3 separate regions of the Homo sapiens genome follow, and all the other regions are reported to be linked to region 2. The links are microRNA targets in miRTarBase. Many come from high-throughput screens and were not tested one by one. Region 2 holds a microRNA gene; each other region holds the end of a gene's coding sequence.

The links. Region 2 holds the annotated microRNA hsa-miR-1249-5p (AGGAGGGAGGAGAUGGGCCAAGUU, at 3,189-3,212, shown strand). A microRNA usually pairs through its seed, bases 2 to 8, with sites in the 3' UTR of a target mRNA and lowers its output. Matches are read on the target gene's strand: a 7mer-m8 pairs with bases 2 to 8, a 7mer-A1 pairs with bases 2 to 7 and ends in A, and an 8mer does both.
Region 1: miRTarBase lists TMEM51 as a target of hsa-miR-1249-5p. Seed matches in the 3' UTR shown: 7mer-m8 at 899-905.
Region 3: the mRNA of NOVA2 is a reported target of hsa-miR-1249-5p. Seed matches in the 3' UTR shown: 7mer-m8 at 6,074-6,080, 7mer-m8 at 5,953-5,959, 7mer-m8 at 5,677-5,683, 8mer at 5,227-5,234 and 7mer-A1 at 3,960-3,966.

Annotation. Positions count from the first base shown.
Region 1 is chr1:15,218,867-15,226,052 of GRCh38, forward strand. TMEM51 (transmembrane protein 51) reads left to right here. Exons shown (of 4, transcript NM_001136218.2): 4 at 460-1,612. The coding sequence ends at 877. Among named protein-coding and RNA genes, the nearest start is that of FHAD1, 25 kb to the right of the region's middle.
Region 2 is chr22:45,197,025-45,204,204 of GRCh38, reverse strand. MIR1249 (microRNA 1249) reads left to right here and starts at 3,186; the gene lies at 3,186-3,251. KIAA0930 reads left to right here. Exons shown (of 10, transcript NM_001009880.2): 6 at 220-360; 7 at 1,021-1,215; 8 at 4,170-4,332; 9 at 6,257-6,415; 10 at 6,989-7,180. The coding sequence ends at 7,029. RefSeq lists a cis regulatory region at 1,806 and an enhancer at 1,734-1,878.
Region 3 is chr19:45,933,552-45,940,739 of GRCh38, forward strand. NOVA2 (NOVA alternative splicing regulator 2) reads right to left here. Exons shown (of 4, transcript NM_002516.4): 4 at 183-7,188. The coding sequence ends at 6,312. Among named protein-coding and RNA genes, the nearest start is that of NANOS2, 22 kb to the left of the region's middle. RefSeq lists a cis regulatory region at 6,172-6,271.

The DNA.
Region 1 (7,186 bases), not on the chromosome of region 2:
ATGTGACTAAAAGTGGGTATAAATACAATTTCCAAGAGCCCCTATGTGGCCAACTCAGGGTGTACTGCCTATGAGTTAGCCCTGCTCCACAAGAAGCAGTGCCCTTCAATAAAGAATTGTGGTCTAACACCACTGGCTCACCCTTGAATTCCTTCCTTGATGAAGCCAAGAACCCTCCCAGGCTAAGCCCCAATTTGGGGACTCACCTGTCCTGTCCTGCATGACTAGTACTTAACTCATAGTGTTGTCAGGAATCTGAAATTGGTTCATATTTGCTAAAATACTTAGAAGGGAGCCCAGCTCATAGTAAACACTTGAAGTATTCACTTTTATTGCCTCTAAGACCCATTTGTTATTTACAAGGCTGCTGTGTGTGGACTCTTTGGAGCCCATCCCTTTGGGATTTTGAATGACTTGAGCACAGGCTAACACTCTCCCTGTCTGTGTGTCTTCTTGCAGCCAGGAGGAAGAAGAGGAGGATGAGGAGGCTGCCTCAAGGTACTATGTTCCCAGCTACGAGGAAGTGATGAACACAAACTACTCAGAAGCAAGGGGAGAGGAGCAGAACCCGAGGTTGAGCATCTCTCTCCCGTCCTATGAGTCACTGACGGGGCTCGACGAGACCACCCCCACATCCACCAGGGCTGACGTGGAGGCCAGCCCTGGGAACCCCCCTGACAGGCAGAACTCTAAGTTGGCCAAACGACTGAAACCGCTGAAAGTTCGAAGGATTAAATCTGAAAAGCTTCACCTCAAAGACTTTAGGATCAACCTCCCAGACAAAAACGTCCCTCCTCCCTCGATAGAGCCTTTGACTCCTCCACCGCAGTATGATGAAGTCCAGGAGAAGGCCCCCGACACCCGGCCGCCCGACTGAATGGCCCCACTTGAGCCACGCTCCCTCCTGTCTCTCACACCTTTCACCCCCAAGACTCTAACAAAGCCACATGAGCCACAGTTGAGAAGCGGAGGGGCCAGCTGTGCATGGAGCCATTTGGATGGCGGCGGGCGGGGGGGGATTCTCTGTATCAGGAGTGACTTTGTTGCCCCACACAGCCTCCTGCTGCAGGTGCTTTGGAAAGAGATGCTGCCTTGGAGCTGGTGAATCTGTGGACCACATTCAAGGGTGTGGCACAGGCATCTTCCCATCCTTTTCACTCCGAATCGCTGGCGACACATTCTCCTTTCCAGCTAGGAAAGGGTTCCTCGCGGCTGGTTTAGATTGTGGTTGTTTGTTTTGCTTCTACTAAGACTGTTTTGTTTCAAAAAGGAAACAAGTTTTGTGTTTGCTGTCTACGCTGGAGTCCTGAACTGTGGGTAGAAAACACGACCTGGCTTTGTAGAAAGGACACAGGGCTGTTTTATGAACTAAGCGGTGAGGCTCAGGTGGCGGCTCTCGCAGAGCCCCTGATGCTGTTGTTCTTTGAGGGCTTAAGGCCTGATGAACGTAGGCACGTGATGCATAATAGTCTTCAATGGTACACTTAACTAGTCTCTTCTGTGTAACAGCAAAAAAAAAAAAAAAAAGAAGAAGAAAGAAAACTGTAGGAAATGTTCTTTTTGAAATGCCATGCAATGGAGCTTTTTGTAATAAAATATTTTATATGTAGTACATTTGGGTGCTGAGTTACTTTAGCAGCTCTCCCAATACTGACTTTCTTAGGGGAAAATGGCAATAATAATAGCTAATATGTACTGAATACTTATGCCCAGTGTTGTGCTAAGCATTTCACACATCACCCCATTTTGTCTGGACCCAAGTCTGGTAATAATGCCATTCTGTTGTCAGCTCACAGAGGCTTTAGGTTAATGTAAGTGCCCTGTGTCACACTGCTAGTAAGCAGTAGAGCTGGGGTTTGAGCCCAGGTTGCCTGGCTCCAAGGCCTGAGTTCTTACACACCCCCCATACAGCTCAGTGTAAAGAGCTTTTCCAGACTTTGAATGAAGACTTGCACTTCTCAAGTTCAGAGGTTGTCTCTGTCAACCTATGCACCCAAAAGAAAGTTCTGGTTGTTTGAACAGCAGCTTTCTACCTGTCTAGGCATCCTTCCTATCTCCCTCTGCTGAGAACTGGCCCAGGAGGGAGCTCAGTGCAGCCTGTCCTCTGCCCCCAGAACTGACAGGCTATGTAAGTGTAGGGGGTGGGTGAGCATGTCCCCCTGGAGGGGGAAAGTGAGTCTATGCAGCTCAGAAAAGCAGTGCAATGAATAAGAAATGCTCAGGGGATCGCACGCTGTTGAAGAGGGGACATAGGAGGGGAATGGAGACCTCTGGGGTCAGGATCTTGACCGTGGAGTGAGTGTCTGGGAAAACAGACCCAAGTCCAAAGGAAGCCTTCCTGCTATTGGTGGGCATGGAGCCAGCCTGCTGAGGAGTCTGTGTCAACCTGGTTGGAAGAGTAATTCCCAGGCCCAGATGTTTTCCTAACAAGCTCCGGTGGACAGGGAAGGGATGACAGGCACCGAGTTACCTTCTTATCTCAAGATTAGCAGTAGTGACTAAAGTTCGAAACTTTCACTTTCCTTATGCGATGCATTATTAAAAGGGGAGATGTTGGGATTGGCTTTGTGGCATGGGACAGACACCCAGAGGCCTGGTCCGTTCCCCGGCCCACTCCTGAGCCGACCCATGGCTCTTTGTGTCTCATGTCTCTGGGCTGGGCTTGCTTTCCTGTTACTTTCTGTGCTTCTTCCAAACCAGAGGATAAATGGGAGGAAAATAGAAGAGAAGAGTAAGGACCCAGATGAGTTGAGAAATGACTTTCTGGAAGAGCTCTCAATCTGGCTTCTGGTAGAAACCTTTTGGGGTGTCTCCCTAGTCTAGATCCTCCACGGGGGAGAAGGAGTTGTGAGGCTTGGGTGGGCTGATTGGTGGTCCCCAAAGGTATCAGACCCTAATCCCTGGAACCAGTGAATATTACCTCGTATGGTAAAGTTTTTGCAGATGTGATTAAGGATTGAAGATGATGGGATTGTCCTGGGTTTGCCAGGTGGGCCCTTAATGCCAACCACAAATGTCCTCACAAGCAAAAGACGGGGAGAGTATATACAGAAGAGGAGGAGACAATGTCATCCCAGAGGCAGAGATGGGAGTGATCAATCTACAAGTCCAGGAAGGCCGGCAGACACCGGAATCAGGAAGAAGCAAGGGATGGACTCTCCCCTAGAGCCCCTGAAGGATGCAGTCCCCGCTTACACCTTGATTTCAGGCCAGTTAATATGATTTTGGGCTTCTGGCCTCCAGAACTGTGAGAGAACAAGTCTCTGTTGTTATGGGTCACCAAGTTTGTAATAATTTGTTATAGGAAACCAATACAGAGCTCAATCTTCAACTCACTCGATATCAGCCCCCCTTTGGCCTCAACACTTCATGAGTCTTCCCACAGAGAGGAGTGCAACGGAAATAGCATTTAGGACCCCTGCTTGTATGTGTGGAAATGATCAAGTAGAAAATTATTCATATTATTCAGAGGATTATAATGGATATGTGGTATACACAATATAAAGCCTAGGCTCACCTCTTTCTAAAATGGGCAGAAAGAATGTTAGCTGGAAACCTTAACCACAGGTTTGGAGTCCTAAATAGTGCCTCGAGGCAAGGAAGTTCTCTGCAGTACTGAGTTAAAACCACCTGTCAAAGCAGGAGGCCACCTTTACTCAAAATTCCTCAAAGCACATTTGCCCTGTTTGTTTATTGGTTCAGAGCTATCATTATCATCCTCAGGACTCTCTCTTTCTCTTTGGACTAGAAAAGAAAAGAAGAAAGGAAGAAAAAGGAAGAAGGATAGAAAGGAGGAAGGAAGATAAATAGAAAGGGGAAGGAAGGGAGGGAGAGAAGGAAAGGAAGGGAAGGGAAGGGAGAAGGGAGGGAAGGGAAGAAGGAAAGGAAGGAAGGAAAGGAAGGGGAAGGGGAAGGGAGGAGAAGGAAAAGGAAGGGAAGGGAAGGGAGGGGAGGGAAGTGAAGGCGGAAAAAAAAGGGAGAAGCTAAGAAGGCAAGAACCAGAAGACTAGTTCTTTTCTTTGCTCCCAATCATGTTTTTGTCCCTAATGTAAACATAAGAGCACAAACATGGGGGAAATGCAAGTAGCAACCCAAATGGCCCCAGGGCTATGAAAGAGCAGCAAGAAGAAATCTGAATGAATTCCAGTTTTTTAAAGTCCCACTCAGCACTCCCACCCTACTCAAAAGGACAGATCTTAGCAGCTTGTTGGGATCATGTGACATCCATGCTTTCAAGTCACAGCTGATTGGATCTGAGGTATGTATCCGGGATACCCAGGGAGAACCAATCAGAAGCTGAGTTTGGCTAGGCAAGTCTTTCCCAGGAGCCCAGCTTTGGATGGAGAGGTCAGTTCTGAGTGATGTGGTCTCAGGGGTTAGGTGACTGTTTGGGGGCCATCAGGGTGGGTCACGGACACGTGAGGCAGGAGAAGCCACTCTGCAGACAGAGAATGGAGTTAACTGCTCAAATACACAGCCATGAAAAATGAGCCTCAGAGACCGCTGCCTCCTGGTGACTTTCTGGTCCTTGGTCTTTGGGAAGCCCAACTGTGCTGAGAGATGGTGTCCCCCAGTCAATTTCCTTCTTTAGCTTTGATCTTCTCTTTATTTTCTTTTTTGAGATCGAGTTTCGCTCTTGTTGCCCAGGCTGGAGTGCAATGGCGCAATCTTGGCTCACTGCAACCTCCACCTCCTGCCTCAGCCTCCCAAGCGATTCTCCTGCCTCAGCCTCCCAAGTAGCTGGGCTTACAGGCGTGTGCTACCACACCTGGCTAATTTTGTATTCTTAGTAGAGAAGGCATCTCACCATGTTGGTCAGGCTGGTCTTGAACTCCTGACCTCAAGTGATCCACCCGCCTTGGCCTCCCAAAGTGCTGGGATTACAGGTGTGAGCCACTGTACCTGGCCCGCTTTGATCTTGAATTTAACTGAAATCCTTGAGGACAGAATGGCCTTTCCATTGTCCACAGTGCTGGGCCCAGAGTTGGTACTCCACCTAACCTCGATTTTGATTTTTCCTTTCCTCTGACTGGTTGCAGTTCTGGGGAAGGGGAGCCACGAGCAGGTGCTTAAGGCACAAGACTGGAGCATGACTGTGACTGCAGTGTAGACCACTGCCTGGGGAGTGCAGCTGAACCAGCTGGATCCATCCATTTCCACGACTGCTTACTCAGTGCCTGTTAGATGCCAGGTACTGCTCTAGGCTCCAGGATACAGCAGTGAAGCTAAAGCCTGCTCTTCATGGGGAAGATTCGTGCTTGGGCACTGCTTCCCAAAGCAGGTCCTGTGGCCTTGGGTGACAGTCACCTTTGGGTGATCATTCGGGACTGACTAGTTGAACTGGGTGCAATACATTTGAAAGCTGCAGGGTAGCCACATGCACAGAGAAAGCCAGTCCTGCAGGAAGAGATGGAGGAAGCAGAAGGGCACGGAGGAAACAGCCCTCCACAGAAAGAGACAGATTTGCTGCTTTGTAGTTCCTGGTTGGGGAGCCTGGCCACACACTGTGACCTTTGGGTATATACAACACACCAGTCTGCTTTCAATAATGCCTATCTTTCCTTAAGCAAGTTGGAGTGGGCTTCTGTTATTTGAAGCCACATGTCCTGAAATGACTCACTTCCGCATGGACAAGCATGAGATGGCAAAGCCGAAATCAATCCACAAGCGTCCTGAGATACTGAAAATGGGACGCAGCTGTATCGCTGGAAATGTGTGGATCAACTGAACCACAGGTTCTAAAAGGCAGTACAAGAAAAGCCCTTCTGAGGATTCGTGGACTTCTTTCTTATTGTAAAGGCCCTGACAAGGACCATTTAGCTCCTAGGACAAACCATGCTGCATATTCTGGTGTGGAGTTACAGAAGGACAGCCCTTGTTATGTCTGCAAGCATGGAGGGTGGGAGAAAGTCTTCCCACCTGAGCCTCGATCTCTTCACCAGCAAAATGGAAGTTCCTCATTTTGTGATGAGTACCTGAAACCAACACAGGTAAAGTGCCCCCACTGCACCCGGCACAGACAAAGCAAGGGGGCCAGGCACAGTGGCTCATGCCTATAACCCAGCACTTTGGAAGGCCAAGGCGGGCAGATCACTTGAGGTCAGCAGTTCAAGACCAGCCTAGCCAACATAGTGAAACCCTGTCTCTACTACAAAATTTAGCCAGGTGTGGTGGCACACTCCTGTAATTCCAGCTACTGGGGAGGCTGAGGCACGAGAATCACTTGAATCAGGGAGGTGGAGGTTGCAGTGAGCTGGGATTGCATCACTGCACTCCAGTCTGGAAGGCAGAGTGAAACTGTGTCTCAAAAAAAGGGAAGGAAGGAAGGAGGAGGGGAGGGGAGGGGAGGGAGGGGAAGGGGAAGGAAGGTAGGACAGTGCAGCTGTGATGAAGCCACAGTCGGATGGAAAACTGACCTGAGATCTAAGCGCTTCTCCCTGCATGAGCCTCACACTCACTTCTACAAGTGTGTTCAGAGAAAATTCACCAAACGCCACAAGTCTGTGAGGCATCTTCACAGAAAGCCAGCTTCAGGGAAACAGCAGCCAGGCCGCGTAATGAAGGCCAACTGAGGCAGCCCCCGGGGTCAGCCTAGCCCAGGGCTTGGGCCCTCCATCATGGAGAGTGGTCAAGTCAGTCTGTTTGGTTTGGTTTTCAGTCTGATGCCATGTTGTCAGCACATTCAGAAGGGAGCAGCTTGTCCTAAGACAGTGAATCTCAGGAGGCCACAGCTGTCAGGACTTTTGATTTCCTGGCGATTCCTCAAGTGTATTCTGCTGGATTTTAATGGGTGGGTGTGGAAAAGTCCCTAATTAGATCCATTTGGAAATCCCTGAGTGAAACAAAGTCTATTTTTATTGCGCACCTACGAGCCAGCAGGAGAAAGCTGTGTGCTTGTCTCTTTGCAGCAATGCAGCTGACCTCGGAAATGATGTCCAAGAATGCCTGAAGCTGAGATGGAAAGTGGCAGCACCTACTATGTGCCAGGTGCTCTGGATAAAGCTGCAAAAAAAAAAAAAAAAAAAAAAAAATGGACCAAGTCCTTGCCGACACAGAGGTGACATTCTGGGTGGAGCCCGAACAGAGGATGAAAAATATGTATACGGTATAAACTCAGAAAATGAGAAGAAAAATAAAGCTGGGTGAAGAACAGGAGGTGAGAGGGGCTCACCTTCAGGGTGATCAG
Region 2 (7,180 bases):
GCGTCCCTGTCCTCCCCTGCTGCTCAGCCCCTGCCCCAGTGTGAGGCTGTTCTTGTCCTGTGGGGCTCGGAGGGCATGGGGCCACAGGAGTGTGTGACAGCCGGTTGTCCCCTGCAAAATGGGGTTTTCTGAGCAGCCCTCCCTGCCAGTTGGGCCAGGCTGTGGTGTGGGCGGTGGGAGCTGATGGTCACGTCCCTGTCTCTTTGTGTCCTGGCCCAGGTGTTCAGCGACATGACCGTAGGGGAAGGAGAGATGGTCTGTGTGGAGCTGGTGGCTAGTGACAAAACCAACACGTTCCAGGGGGTCATCTTTCAGGGCTCCATCCGCTACGAGGCGCTCAAGAAGGTGTATGACAACCGGGTGAGTGCGGGGCGGCCTCACGGGTGTTCTTCTGGGCCCGGGGACGGCGGCTCCACAGCCCACCGTGGTCCATACCATGGGGCCCCCCAGCCTGCTTGTGCATGGTAGCGGCCGCCAGGGGTACCTGCAGCCCCTCCGGGCTCCTTCTAGGCGCTCCCTGGTCCTCTTAACGTCATTCTTCATGGTCGGCCTCAGCCCATGCGGGCCACTTGCCTTCATCTGAAATGTGAGCGGGAACTTCCTCCTCAGTCTCTAGTTCCCTGGGAAGTGATGGCTGATGGTGTCGCTGTCACCTCCTCACTGTCACTTGCTTCCTGCGACTGGCCCTGGGAGTGCTCCGAGTCGCCCCCAACTAAGCAAGCAGATGTGGGCAGGCCCCTCTCCCCCAGCGGGCACCATCCGCAGCCAGCCTTGCTGCCAGCCTGGGGCCCTGTCCTCAGCCTGGTCCGTGGTTCATGGGGCGGTGGGAGGGGCACCAGGAGGGGCACCAGGCAGAGATGTGGGTCCATTCCAGCTGCCCCGCCTGCCAGCTCAGACGCTCCCTCCCGGGCAGCCCCCGCTCCTTGAGGGATGGTCGCCCTGGCTGTTCATGTCCTGGGGAGGGGCCCCATGGAGCCATCGCCACCTCCCTGACTCAGGCTGCCCCGCGCCGGCCCCCAGGTGAGCGTGGCCGCCCGCATGGCACAGAAGATGTCGTTTGGCTTCTACAAGTACAGCAACATGGAGTTTGTGCGCATGAAGGGCCCCCAGGGCAAGGGCCACGCCGAGATGGCGGTCAGCCGAGTGTCTACAGGTGACACATCCCCCTGTGGGACTGAAGAGGACTCCAGCCCAGCTTCGCCCATGCACGAGCGGGTAAGGGCTGCACAGCTGGGGGCGGGGGCTCCCATCCGTCAAGTTCACTTTCCACCGTCTCCCCCGTGCTCACGGCCCCCTGGGGACATAGGTGTTGTCATCCCCAACCACCAGTGCGCAGGCCGAGGTGCCGAGCGTGCGGAGGCCCGGACCACCCAGCCCTTCTCTTTGCCTAGCGGTTTGTAGGAGGCACTGCCGCAGGGGAGGCGTTCCTGCCTTGCAGACCTGGAGGGCTGTGCCTGGCCAAGGTCACACCGCAGGCTGGTGCTGGGCCAGAGCTCTTTCTGCCTCCCTGAGATGCCACAAAGCCAGGCTGAGTCCACAGAGCCAGTGGGCAGAAGAGACTGGCTGGGGACCCAGGCCCGGCCCTGGCGCCTGCCTGGGTGGACCTGCTGGGTGAGCGTGGGCACGTGGCCGGCCTTCCCCGGTGAGTCAGATGGGGATGATGGTGACTGAGGGTCAGCCAGCGCATGCAGAGGCCTAGGCCACCCAGCTCTTTGCCCCGCGGTTTGTAGGAGGTTCTGCTGCAGGAGAGGCGTTCCTGCCTCGCACAGCCGGAAACCAGACTTGCCAGCTTGCCCCAGGTCACAAGGTCTCTTGGGATAGCACTGGGCTTGGGGCCCTGCTCTGCCTAGGCCACTCTCCTTCCCCAGGGCGGGAGGCTGAGGTCAGCAGCAGCTTTGTTCCCAGAAGCCTTTGGTGGGGCACAGGCAGGAGAAGGTCTCCAGCCCACTGGCTGCTTTGCTCTACCTGGTTCTTCCAGAGGGACTGCCCAGAGCTGTAGTTCTTGGAAGAGTACAGGTGTGCTGGGCAGGGGGGTGCCCTTGGCACAGGTCCAGGGGCAGTCTTGCCCAGCCATTGTCCAGGAGAGACGCCACCCACAGCCAGAATCCTGCTCTGCTGCTCTCATAACCTTGGGTGTGTCTCTTTTCCTCTCCAAGCCTCAGTTTTCTCATCTAGAAACAGGGCACGAGGATACCTGCTCCTTCAGTATTTGGGAGGCTTTGAGGAATCCGGGGCTTGGCCCTCAGGAGGATTCCCAGGTGGCAGCTGCAGTAGTTGCTGTTGACCTACTTGGAAAGCAGAGGCGTGGGAATGTAAACGATGCATTACCGCAGGCATGCCTGAGATGAGGGAGTGTGCGTTTGTTATACTTTTAGTTCGAGAAAGATCTGAATCATGCATATCTCCGGGTGGTCAGATGTTGGTTTTCTTTCTCTTCTGTATATCTTTTTTTGGGGGGGAGGTATCTTCTGCAATGAATGTGTTTTGCAAGCCAAAGACAGCAAGTGCTATTTTTTGCAAAGATGGGTGAGAATTCCAGGCAGGGGCCTCTCTTGTCTTTGGAATGAGGTGGTTTATATTTCTGAGTTTGTTTCCGAGATAAAGGGCCTGGTTCTTCTCCCTGGTCCTAAATTATGCCCTGGGACTCTGACAAAATGTGTGTGTGAAAGTCCTTACGAAGATGTGGCCCGAGCTCTGGGCTGGACAAACCCGGGTGCCACCTCCAGCCACAGCCTGAGGGCTGAGTGACTACAGGTCACTAGACCTGCCTGAGCCTTGGTTTTCCCATCTGTCCAGCGGGAGTGGCTGTGAGGGGTGTGAAAGTCCCTGGTGCCTTAGCAGCTGGGCAGCCCTGGGATTCAGGAGGAGGGATGTGCTAGGGTCACACAGGGTCAGCAGCAGGGCTGGCCCCTGGGGACTGCCGCCTGTGCGCCTGCTATTACCTGTCTCCTTCTCTGGCGGGGTCGTCTGGAGCCAGTGCGTGACACATGCTGACTCTGTGTATTGTGGTTGCTGCTGTTTGTTTCTTTTATCTTTTAAAAACCTTCCCCGGCTTGTGGGAACACCGTCTGGAGCCCAGCAGCTGCCAGGACTTTGGTGGATGTCGGAGCCGTGACGAGGAGGCTGACGGGGCTCCCGAAGTCTCAGTCCCAGCTCATCCTGCTCCTCAGATTATTGTTGGCATGGGGAGGAGGGAGGAGATGGGCCAAGTTCCCTCTGGCTGGAACGCCCTTCCCCCCCTTCTTCACCTGGCGAACTCCTACTCGTCCTTCAAGACCCAGCTCCAGCGGCATCTCCTCCAGGAAGCCTTCCCTGATTTCCCAGGCTGTGGATCCCTTTTGCCTCTGTGCTTCATGTATCCTGTGCTTCTCTTTCTCTGTCTCCACAGCCAGCATGCTGTCTATGGTTGTCACTCTCTGAGTCTGTCACCCCAGCAGACTGTGAGCTCCTTGAGGGCAGGGACCTGCAATGTGCCTGTCTGTCCTTAGTGCTGTGCCTGCCTGGCCCTGAGTGGGTGTGAATGTTTGGTGAACAGAACCAAACGTGATTAGAAGTGGGGAGAAGACAGAGGCATAGAGCTACTTAGCACAGTATTTCCTGTGAAGGGTGCTGGGAATGAGAGGGATGGGGCCACGTCAGCCCTGAGAAGTAGGATGAGGAGCGTGGCCCTGGGGGACAGAAGACAGGGCTGCTGCCGTCCTGCTTGGTGACCACAGGCAAGCCAGGGTCTCGGTCCCTGCCTTAGTTTCCCCATGTGTCAGATGGGCTGACGCTAGCCCCTGTCTCACGGAGCTGGAGGCTCAGAGGGTCTGTGTGTGGGGCCAGTGCTCACTCAGCGTCAGCAGCTGTTGTTACTTTGTGCTTGAACACCCCCTACCCACTGTTTGAGGCCCAGAGGAGGGGGGTCTTTCTGCCATTTGCGGCAGCAGCCTGGCCCCTCCTCGGGTAGCACTGGTGGCCAGGTGTCCTGCTGGCCCCTGGGCTGGAACGCATCTTCCAGTCTCTAGGCCCCACCTAGCACGGGCCGGCTGGGCCTGGGTCCTCCTGGGCCAGCGGCCTCTTCCCTGGGAGCTGTGTCAGGTTGTTTGAGGGTGGGATAGGAGGGGCGTTGGGACCCCCGGGGAGGGGGCTGTTCTGCTACTCTGGTGACTTTGGCTGCTTGTTCCCAGGTGACCTCCTTCAGCACACCCCCCACCCCAGAACGGAACAACCGGCCTGCCTTCTTCTCCCCATCCCTCAAGAGGAAGGTGCCCCGGAACCGGATCGCTGAGATGAAGAAGTCGCACTCGGCCAACGACAGCGAGGAGTTCTTCCGGGAGGACGACGGTGGAGGTGACCCCCCACTCCGTGCCCTAGGGTCCCCGTGCCCTTCAGTCTCTTCTTGATCCAGACCAGTCATTCATTCATTTATTCATTCATTCATTTGTTCATTCAGCAGCACTTAGAGAGTGGGTGCCATGTGCCAGGCAGCCCTCCAGGAGCTGAGGGGTAGAGCTGGGGACAGGCAGAAATGGCTGCCTCTGGGGGTCCCGTCCTGGTGGGCTCAGGCGTCTCCTTGGCAGAGTGCTTGGAGCGCAGATGTGCAGCAGTTGGTCAGTTTCAGGGGATTTCCCACCTTTCTAAGGCTTTTCAGCCTGCTTAAGGAAGAAAGCGGATGGGTGATCTGATGGCTCCGCACACACGGGGTGTGGCGGGAGAGAGGAGGGCTTCCCTCCCTTGCGCTGCCTTGGGCCAGCTCGCCCTCAGGGTGAGGCCTGGCCCTCCTGGCTCTGTGCAGCCTCCCAGAACCACGTGCTCTTTGGTGACACAGTCGCCACCTCGTGCAGCCTACCCCCGGGGCCTTCCTGTGCCCCTGTCCCCTGGACTCCGGTTGTCTGTATCTGGGTGTTACCATGCCCCTTAGTCCTGCCCAGGCACAGTCTGCACTCTCTCCTGAGCACCCGTGCCTGCTCCCTGTCCTCGCTCAGTGACCTTCCAGAATACAGGAGTTGTTCCCAGAGCCCCCAGGGAGGCCTCTGAGGGGTTTTAAGCAAGGGAGTGACACAATCAGATTAGCATATTTAAAATGCCACTCAGCAGTCTCTGTGGGAAATGGCTCCTGGGGACAGGCGTGGCCGTCACAGACAGGTTGGGAAGTTCTGCCATGCTCTGCTGGCATGGACCACGTGCCTTCCTCACTGTCATCCTCAGGACCCAGCGGGCGCCTGGCTCCGCACTGTGTGCGTGTCTGTTGAGTGTATGGAAGTGAAGGATTGGCCAGGCACAGTGGCTCACCCCTGTAATTCCAGCACTTAGCGAGACCGAGGCGGGTGGATCACCTGAGGTCAGGAGTTCGAGACCAGCCTGGCCAACATGGTGAAACCCTGTCTCTACTAAAAATACAAAAAATTAGCCGGGCATGGTGGTGGGCGCCTGTAATCCCAGCTACTCAGGAGGCTGAGGCAGGAGAATCTCTTGAACCTGGGAGGCAGAGGTTGCGGTGAGCCGAGATCGTGCCACTGCACTCGAGCCTGGGCAAGAGTGAGATTCCATCTCAAAACAAACAAAAAAAAACGACGTGAAGGATTCGCTGACAACTCCCACTGAGCACCTCCCCCAGCAGGGAGCAGGGCTGCAGCATTGATCAGAAGAGGTGGCAGTCTTTGTCCTGACCACTGGGACCAAGAAGCAGGGGTGTCCCACCTGCTCAAGGCCCTGGCCTGGGTCAGGGACTCCAGCACTGGCCTCGACCTGCTCTTGTGTGAACTTGGGCAAGCCCCTTCCCCACCTGGGCCCGTTCCCGAATCAGTAAGAAGTACTGATCACTGCCCTAGTCTGCCTCTCTGGGGCAGGTTCCCCCAGCCTGGACCGCAGGACTGGGTAATGGTGCAGGTCGGCTCAGCCTTGCTGCTCCCATGCTCTGCAGGTGGCGGTGCCTAGTTCCAGGGACAGGGCCTGCAGAAGCAGAGAATTACACAGTGTGTGTGCCAGAACCCCCGGAGGAGACTAAGCTTGTGACAGAGAAGAGAGAGATGAGGGGGGTGGCCAAAGTCTTCCTGGAGTTGGAGGCCTGGGTCTGGGCCAGAGGAAGCAGGGAGGGGTGTTACAGGCGAGGAGGCAGCAGCTCTGGAGCGTGTGGGTGCTGGTGTGGGGGTGTTGGTAAGGAGCGTCCTGGCCTCAGCAGAGTTTGGCCTCAGCCTGGACTGGGAGCTGGCCTCCTGCTGCTCCCGCCGCGTCCCATGCTGTGGGGGCCTTGACCTGGCCTTCTTTCCTCCAGCCGATCTGCACAATGCAACCAACCTGCGGTCTCGGTCCCTGTCGGGCACAGGACGGTCCCTGGTCGGGTCCTGGCTGAAGCTGAACAGAGCAGATGGAAACTTCCTTCTCTATGCACACTTAACCTACGTCACGTTGCCGCTGCATCGGATTTTAACAGGTAATGCTGGCGGATGTGGGGAAGCAGCCGCACCTTCTCACAGCCAGCTCTGCCTCCAGGGCCTTGGTACTTGTGAGCCACCCGGAGTCATCCCGCCCTGTCCTGTCGGTTGGTTGGGTTTCTTTGCAGGGCTCTTGGCCTCTTTGTCTCAGACTTTGGGTGGAGCCGTAGCTTTCCCAGAGCTGAAGTCCTCCCTTTGTTCACCTTTCTGGCGCACCTGCTGTCCCCTCTTGAGTGGCCACAGATGCCCAGGTGTGTGTTACTCACGGGCGAGGGGAGGCTCTCAGGCCACCTCGCTGACCCAGGCCTGCAGCAGCTGTGACAGGCAGTGGCTCTGGCCCCCACACCAGCTTGCACCTGAGGCCCTGCAGGGTGTGCCGTTGCTGCGAGCCCATTTCCCAGTCTGCAGGGTGAGGATGGTGGAGACACGTCTCCTCTGCAGTCTGTGAGGCCTGGAGAGGAGATGCATGAGTGGCTGAGGCGGGCTTCCTTCAGAAGTGGCACTGCCGTGACCATAGCACTCACCGCTGTTGAGGGTTACTGTTTCACCTGCTTCCCTCCTGCCGGCCCTAGACATCCTGGAAGTTCGGCAGAAGCCCATCCTGATGACCTAGCCGCGTGCGGAGCCTGCGCAGAGCCCCGGCCGGGCCCAGCCCTCGGAGTGCTGCCAAGTGCCTACCTGTCCACCGCCACCGGGGTCTGCGATGGCACGCCAGTGCTGGAGCCGCAGCCAGGCGAGGCCACTCGACTCCCGGGGCCGGGGCC
Region 3 (7,188 bases), not on the chromosome of region 2:
TCCCCCATCTGGGACCATCCTCAGGGGTCCCCCCACCCTCTTCCCCTAAATGCCCAGAGCCCTGGGGGAAAGGGGGAAAGAATTTAGGATGAGGGTGGAGGTGCAGGGAGGAGGGAGAGGGAAGGGGATGGGTTAAGAAGGAGTGTGTGATGTCAAGCAAAAAAGACAACATTAGACACAGATGCTGAGATGGCGTTTATCGCGGCAAAAAAAGGTGAAGTCGCCGAGGGGAAAGGGGTGGGGAAAGGGGGTGTGGTGGGGGCTGGGGTGGGGGCCATGGAAGCTAATACATGGTGCACTAGGTCACACAACGGACACTGGGGGTGGGTGAGTGGGTGGGGTGGGCGTGGCCCAGGCATGGCAATGTGGGGAGTGGGAGGAGACGGCAGTGCACCCCAGCCAGGAGCTTCTGGAGGTGGTGGGCAGGAGGCGGGCGGCGTCTCTGGTCGCAGAGGATGGAAGGAATCAGTTAGAGGGGGTTGAATGGAGGCACTGGAGGCATGGCCACATTCCAAGAAATGGAATGAAGGAGTGGGACAGCAGGCAGGGGGCCAGCCTGGGGCCTGGGCCTTTTAATCTAAGGACTGGGGAGAACCAAGGGACCTTAGAGGTCCTCCAGTCCTCCCCATATTCCAAGAGGGAGAACAAGCCTGGAGAGGAGGCTACCTTAAGGTCCTAAGAAGGATTTAGCAATCGGTTCTCCAAAGATGGCCCTGCAGCCTCCCCTGTCCCCCATTCTTCTGCTACCCTGTCTCCAACAGAGAAAGGGGGAAGAGAGGTTCTAGCTCCTCTGACTCCACCATTATCTCACTGAGGCTCCTCAGGGAAATTGGAGGATGAATCCATTTCACAGAAGGGGAAAACGGAGGCATCCTCCCAGACTACACCTTTCCACACCTCTCCCACCACCCTGCCGGGGAATCTATGCACCCCATCCCTCTAGAGTAATACTGATAGCTTGAAATCCTTAGCGATGGGGACAGGTGAGGGGACATACCTTAAAATTCTCCCAAATCGACCCGGGATGTGGGCCATGCCTCCAGTGGCCTGAGATGCCAACATAAAGAAAAGAAAAATGACTCCCCACGTCCCCTGGCTCAAACCCAGTACAAAAGTGACTATTTACAATGAAGGCGTGGGGAGTGTGTGGGGGGCACACGAAGGAGGGGGTCAGAGTGAGCGCTCCATTTGAGGGAGGCCACGCCCCTGGACCCGCCTTTTAAAGGGACAAAGCCAAATAGCATAGATATTTATAGAGGATGTCAATCCCCAGGGTGGGGCAGACCCTAGGGGTGAGGGATGGGGGTGGGGCATGGGATGGGGTGCGGGTGGGGAGGCATGGGTGGTGGGAGGAGATGGAGGAAAGGTAGCAACTGCCCCTAGCCTCCCCCCTCCCCCCTGCCGGACACACAGTTTTCCGTGGGATGAACACAGAAAGGGTTAATCAAAAAGAGTTCGATGAGCGAGTCTGACGGTCGAGTGGGGCGGGCTGGAGCAATGAGGCCGCAGGTCCCGGTGGCCGGTGGTGATGGAGTCACTTAGAAGATGAGAGGTTGGTGGTTTTGGGGGGAGAGGTGGGGTAGGGAAAGGGGTGGGGGAGGGGGGGTTAGGCAGTCCCCCCCCAGTTATCTCTGGGAGACAAGTGTCCTGGACTGGTTGAGAAGGGATTAAAAACCAGCAGCCTTCACCACCATGACCCCACAGATTCTCTTCCCATTTCCCTCCCTGCCACCCAGCAATCTCCAATGCAACTTGCAGGGGACACTAAGACAGACCATACACACCAGCAGTGGCGCCCGGAGACAAGCCCTCTCCAACCACGGCGTGGAGACAGCTGACCACAGTGCAAACGGATCGCGATAGCAGGGCTGGGTGTTATCACCCCAGTAAACCAGTGTCCCTGGCTCGCCTGTGCCCCAGCTTGGGTATCGCGATCCCGTTCTCCCCATCGTGACATCCAGTCCAGGCTTTCAGGACAGCGAGCCCGGTTTCCAGGCAGGTGCTTGTCGAAGGCCTGGCTGGCTGTACCGACAGGCGGGCACTCAGTCAGCAGCCTGGACGCCCCAACTGCCATCCTCATCGCCACTCTTGTTAATACTTTTGCCACTGCACAGTCTATCACAGCCTCTAATCCCGGTCCTGAAACAGCAATCATCCATTCAGGGGGACTCCTCTCATTTTCCAAACAATTGGCCACCAATCAAAACAAAGTAAGAAGGAGGATGTGGGATGGAGGAACAGGGAGGAGAAACAGAATGAGGGGATATTGAAGGATTTGGTGGTCCAGAGGGGAGAGGAAATACACCTCGGAGATAAGCGACACCCTGGTGTTCCAAGTAGAGGTCCCCAACCATCTATAGGTCGGCTTTTATCAACATCCACTTGGGATACCCATAATTCCCAACTACAAGTCCAGGGTAGGCGTTAGGGCAGATAGAAACGGCAAAATCATTGTCTTCTGATCACCACCCCTACTAATTATTGCAGTGAAGCCTCCTTGCCCATGTAGAGGTGGCTGGGACAGGGCAGAAGAAGGTGGCTGGGCAGGTTGGCTCAGAGCCCCCTGAGATGGGGGATGAAGGAGGTTAATTTGGCACATCGAACCCCCTCTTCTCATAGGAGCTTTGAGGTCCTTCTCTTGAATCCAGTTGGTACCGCCCCTTGGGCTAGCAGAGGAGGAGTTGAGCTTGTCTCCTCCTCCCCAGTTTCCATAGATTTGCCAGGAAGTTGGCAAGTGGGATTCTCCTTGGCTGGTGGAATTTGGGGGGACCCAAAAGGATAGGGGTAAGTTGAAAAGGAGAGCTTTTTTCTGTCTTTTTTTTTTTTTCTTACAAAGATTCTAAGAAAAACTCAGGGTGGGAGGGCTGTGGAAGGGGGACCCAATTTAGCTCCATGTCCACACTTTTGCAATGCCTCTTAGGGACCTCCTCAAAGAGAAATGGTCCCATTTCCTCCCCTCTATCCAAGGTCCTCTCCCCCCAGAGCGGCTCAGTTCCAAGGAAGTTTGGCACTTTTTTTTTTTTTTAAATGGGGAAATTGGGGAGAGAGAGTTGAGACATTTGAGGAAAGGAGGAAGACAGACAAAGACTAAGATAGAGACAGGACAGAAAACAATGGGAACCACACGGAGGAAAAAAAAATAGAAAGTCATAGGGAGCCAGACAAAGAAAGGGAGGAAGACACTTGGAGAAGGTATGGGAAGCTAGAGGGCAAATGAGAAGGAATAGGGAGATAATCCAATGCAGCAAACACTTATTAAGCACCTACTGGGTGCTGAAGAGAAGGGTGCAAGGAGGCCACTCAGAGACTCTGAGATCGGATTGGCTAATAGGGAGACGGGGAAAAAAAAAGAGATGATGGGTTTTTCAATAATCCTCATCCCTGACCCCACATCTGTGTCCCCTCTGGACAAACTGCAGCACAAAAGATTGAGGTCAGATTGCAGAAGGGACTTTCAAGAGATGGCAAAGATGGTGGAGTGAGTTTCCCAAGGTAAAATGGGGAAAGGTGTGGCTCTCTGCTCACCAACATGGTGAGTGAACTAGCTCACTGAGCTAGCAAAGTATACCTTTCAGATCACCCTGGCTGGCTGGGTAGGGGGTCCCCAAGAAATATGAATAGGGAGGGGTTGTTACACAGACACCCCAAGCAAACACTTTTCAGGAGGCCCAGCCTCCGGAGATGTGTCTGTGTGAGAGGAGTCCTGGACCCGGCTGATTGGGACCCAGACTCCAGTGAATGAGTTTGTAGAAAGCGGCTGCCAAGCGGAGGATGCAAATGATATGCAAATGAGTTCATTCAGATCCCACCTCCCCAGTCCCAGACCTTACTTCACTCTCCCTGGCTCCTTCCCTTCCTCATAGGGTCCTGGGGGGCTGTAGGGGGATATTCCAGCTAGATACTGTAATACTCGCGTGCGGGTAGAGATACTGTGAAATACTGTAAGGTCTTTTGAGAGGTGGAGGGGAGCAATGGCCCACAGAGCCGCCCCCACCTCTAACCCCAAGAGCCCCCAACGGTAGTAGAAGATATGTACAAAGTTACATCAAGAATTGTTTTGGCACTCAGATCTCCATCTGGGTTCAGTCTGGAGATTAGGGGTGGGGCAACAACAATGGGAAGTGGGGGATAGGGGAGGGGAAGTGGGGCCTGCCTCCCACCCTGGAGATGACAAGGGCATGGAAAAAGTCACCCCAGTGCCCAAGTTACAGCCTCCCATCGGGTGGAAGGGCTGGGGTGGGAAATTCAGTGCAAGGTACCTCGAAGGCTATTGCTTTCTAGGGATTTTCACATTTTGATTTGGGGGTGGCTCTCTAGCAAGGGAGAGGGATCTCCTAGGCTTTAGGGGCAGGAATTGTCTCTGTGGCTTTTCTTCCCTCCTTTTTTAGGAGAGAGACAAGGAGGCTGGATTTCCCCCAAAGTCATAGAGAAGAAAAGGGTTTGGAAGACCTAGGAGGCGGACAAATGGGGGAGAGGGTGGGCATGGGGCGCCCCTCCCCCAGAGATGCTGATGATGGAACCAGGGCACTGGGCGCCCTGCTTTGGGTTGGAGAAAGTGGAGGTGGTCTCCAAGGAAGAGAGGGAGATGGGTGGGGGTAGAGGGAGGTCTCAGCTATCCTAGTCTACATGGTTGTCAGGCCCTGAAATCTCAGTCTGCCAACAGGTCCTTAGAGCTGACCACAGCCACAGCACTCAGGGAGCCACTCCTAAACCAACTCTCAAGGCCGCCTGGCTTGTCAGACTCCATCAGAACATTCTAGTTCTCCAGAGCCCCTGGTGAGCACACCAAAACATTCTGATCCATCAGACATCACCGAAGTATGCCAGCTTGCTGGAAGCCACCAAACCAATCTAACCTATCAGACCACACGAAGCATTCTGGCCCAAGGGACCCTACTATGGCTCACTGAACTCTACACCTGGCCATACTGGCCTGACAGAGCCACCACACACTTGGCTCACCCGATTCAATGAAACAAAGCCACGCAGACACAGGCATGCACACAAAAGGCAGGGGTGGGAAGGGAGGTCTTTAACAGTAGTTTGCACTAGGTCCATCTCCCACCCCTCCCTCCAGGGCGAGTTCGCAGACTTGACGTGTTTGAATGGAGATGACCCTGACAATATTGGTTTTTTTCCGTTAGAGTCCTCCAGATTGGATCCAAGTCCCGTGCCTTATTCTCTTCCTAGGAAGACCCCCAGGCCAACACCCACCAAAGAAGGGTGTGGAGGGAGAAGGCAGGTCAGAGACTGGTCACTGTCCAATACAGGAAGTACATGCTTCAGCCTAATGACATCACAGGACGTGACCTCTAGGCATCACCGGAAGTACACCTTCCCATGATATCACCAAAGTGACCTTCAAGGAAGAACTCATTGAGACATCACAGGAAGTACCTGCTCCCTTATGTTCACAGGAAGTAACCTCTGAGGAACTGCTTCCTGTGACATCATAAGGGGTGCCCAGAAGCACCCCAGAAAGTACTCAGTGACATCACAACAGAGACCCTCATTGCCATTACTCTAAGCCATCAGAGATACCACACCAAGTTGATCCAGCCTCTTGCAAGTCTTGCCCACAGGACTGGCCCAATCCCAGAGCTGGCATCCTTCCCAGCAGCACTGTCCCTGCCCCCCCATACAACCTGACAACAAAAGAGTGAACATTCCCACCTAGGAGGGACAGCTCCAGTGGGAGGAGAGTAGCTGAGAAGATCTGGGAACTCTGGGGTCCTTGCTCCAAATGCCCCATTTCAGCTCAGACGCCTCTGCTACCTCTACTCCCATGGCTTCCCTCAGATCTAGAACTGAAAGCAGAGAGGTGGGGTGTTGTGTTTTGGGAAGGCCCCTCATTCTGGGTGACCCAGAGGCTCCCTCCCCTCCTCCCATATGGAAACAAAAACTTATAAAGGGGGAAAAAATCCTTACCAAAAAAAAAAAAAAAAAAAAAAAGGAGGGAAAGAAAGAGAAAATAACGCTTTGTTTTCTATTAAAATCAACAAAATGCAATATATACAGATATCACACAGACCTGGGCCCTGGGACAGGAAGGGTCAGGCCCAGCCAAGCACAGGGAGGGAGGAAGGAGGGGTCAGTTCCGGGCTGGGGAGGGGGCTTCTGAGCCCCCTTCCCAACCGTCACTCAATCCTGCCTATGACTACCAGAAGGGGAGGGTGCAGTCGGGCCTACCCCAGCCCCATCCCAAGAGGAGCAGGACTACACCAAGCTGAGGTCAGGAGTTGGGGGGGAGGAGGAGAGGGAAGAGGAGGAGATGGGAGGAGAGAAAAGGGTGGGAGCACACACCACAGGCCTCATCCCACTTTCTGGGGGTTTGAGGCCCTCACTCCCTGCTCGTAGGTGACCCGCTGACTGATGAGGTATTGAGCGGCTTGCGTGGCCGCGGGGCTGCCCGTGATGGTGACCCGCCGGTTCCGCGTGCCTGGCAGGAACTCGCCCTTCTTGGAGATCTGGATGCGAGCGCCCGTCAGCTCCTGGTACTCCACCAACGTCTTGCCCCCCTTCCCCAGGATGGCTCCCACCAGGTTCTCAGGCACCGCAATCTCCACCAGCTCCTTGGCACTCTCAGCCGCCAGCTTCTCCGCCGTCAGGAAGCCCCCGGCCGCCCCGGCCGCGGCTGCAGCGGCCACCAGCGGGCCGCCCCCTCCGCCCGCCCCGCCGCCCGCCCCGGCCCCGAGGTAGCCGTTGGCGGCTGCGGCCAACGCAAAGGACCCCAGGGCTCCGGGAGGCGGGGGCGGCGGCGGGGCGGCCCCTCCGGCTGGCCCGGCCCCGGCCTCGCCCGCGTAGGATGCCAGGAGGTTGGCGGCGGCGGCGGCTGCTGGGTTGGCCCCGGCGGCCACGGCGGCCAGGACGCCGGAAGCTGCGGCCGAGTTGAGGCCCAGGCCCAGGGAGTTGGTGTTGTAGCCGTAACTTGCCAGCGTGTTAAGCGCCGTGCTGATGGCCAGCAGGTCGGTGCCTGAGAAGGCGGGCAGCGCGGCGGGAAAGGCCCCCACGCCAGCCAGCCCGGCGGGGCCCAGCAGGCCGGAGGCGGCGGCGGCCGACGCTGCGGCCGCGGCTGGCAGCACATCCGCGGGGCTGGCGTACGGAGAGCCGGTGGGGTTGGAGTTGGCCACGGGGCCTGCCACGTTGGCGTAGCTGATGTTGAGGCAGCTGCTGCTCTGGGGGTCTTCT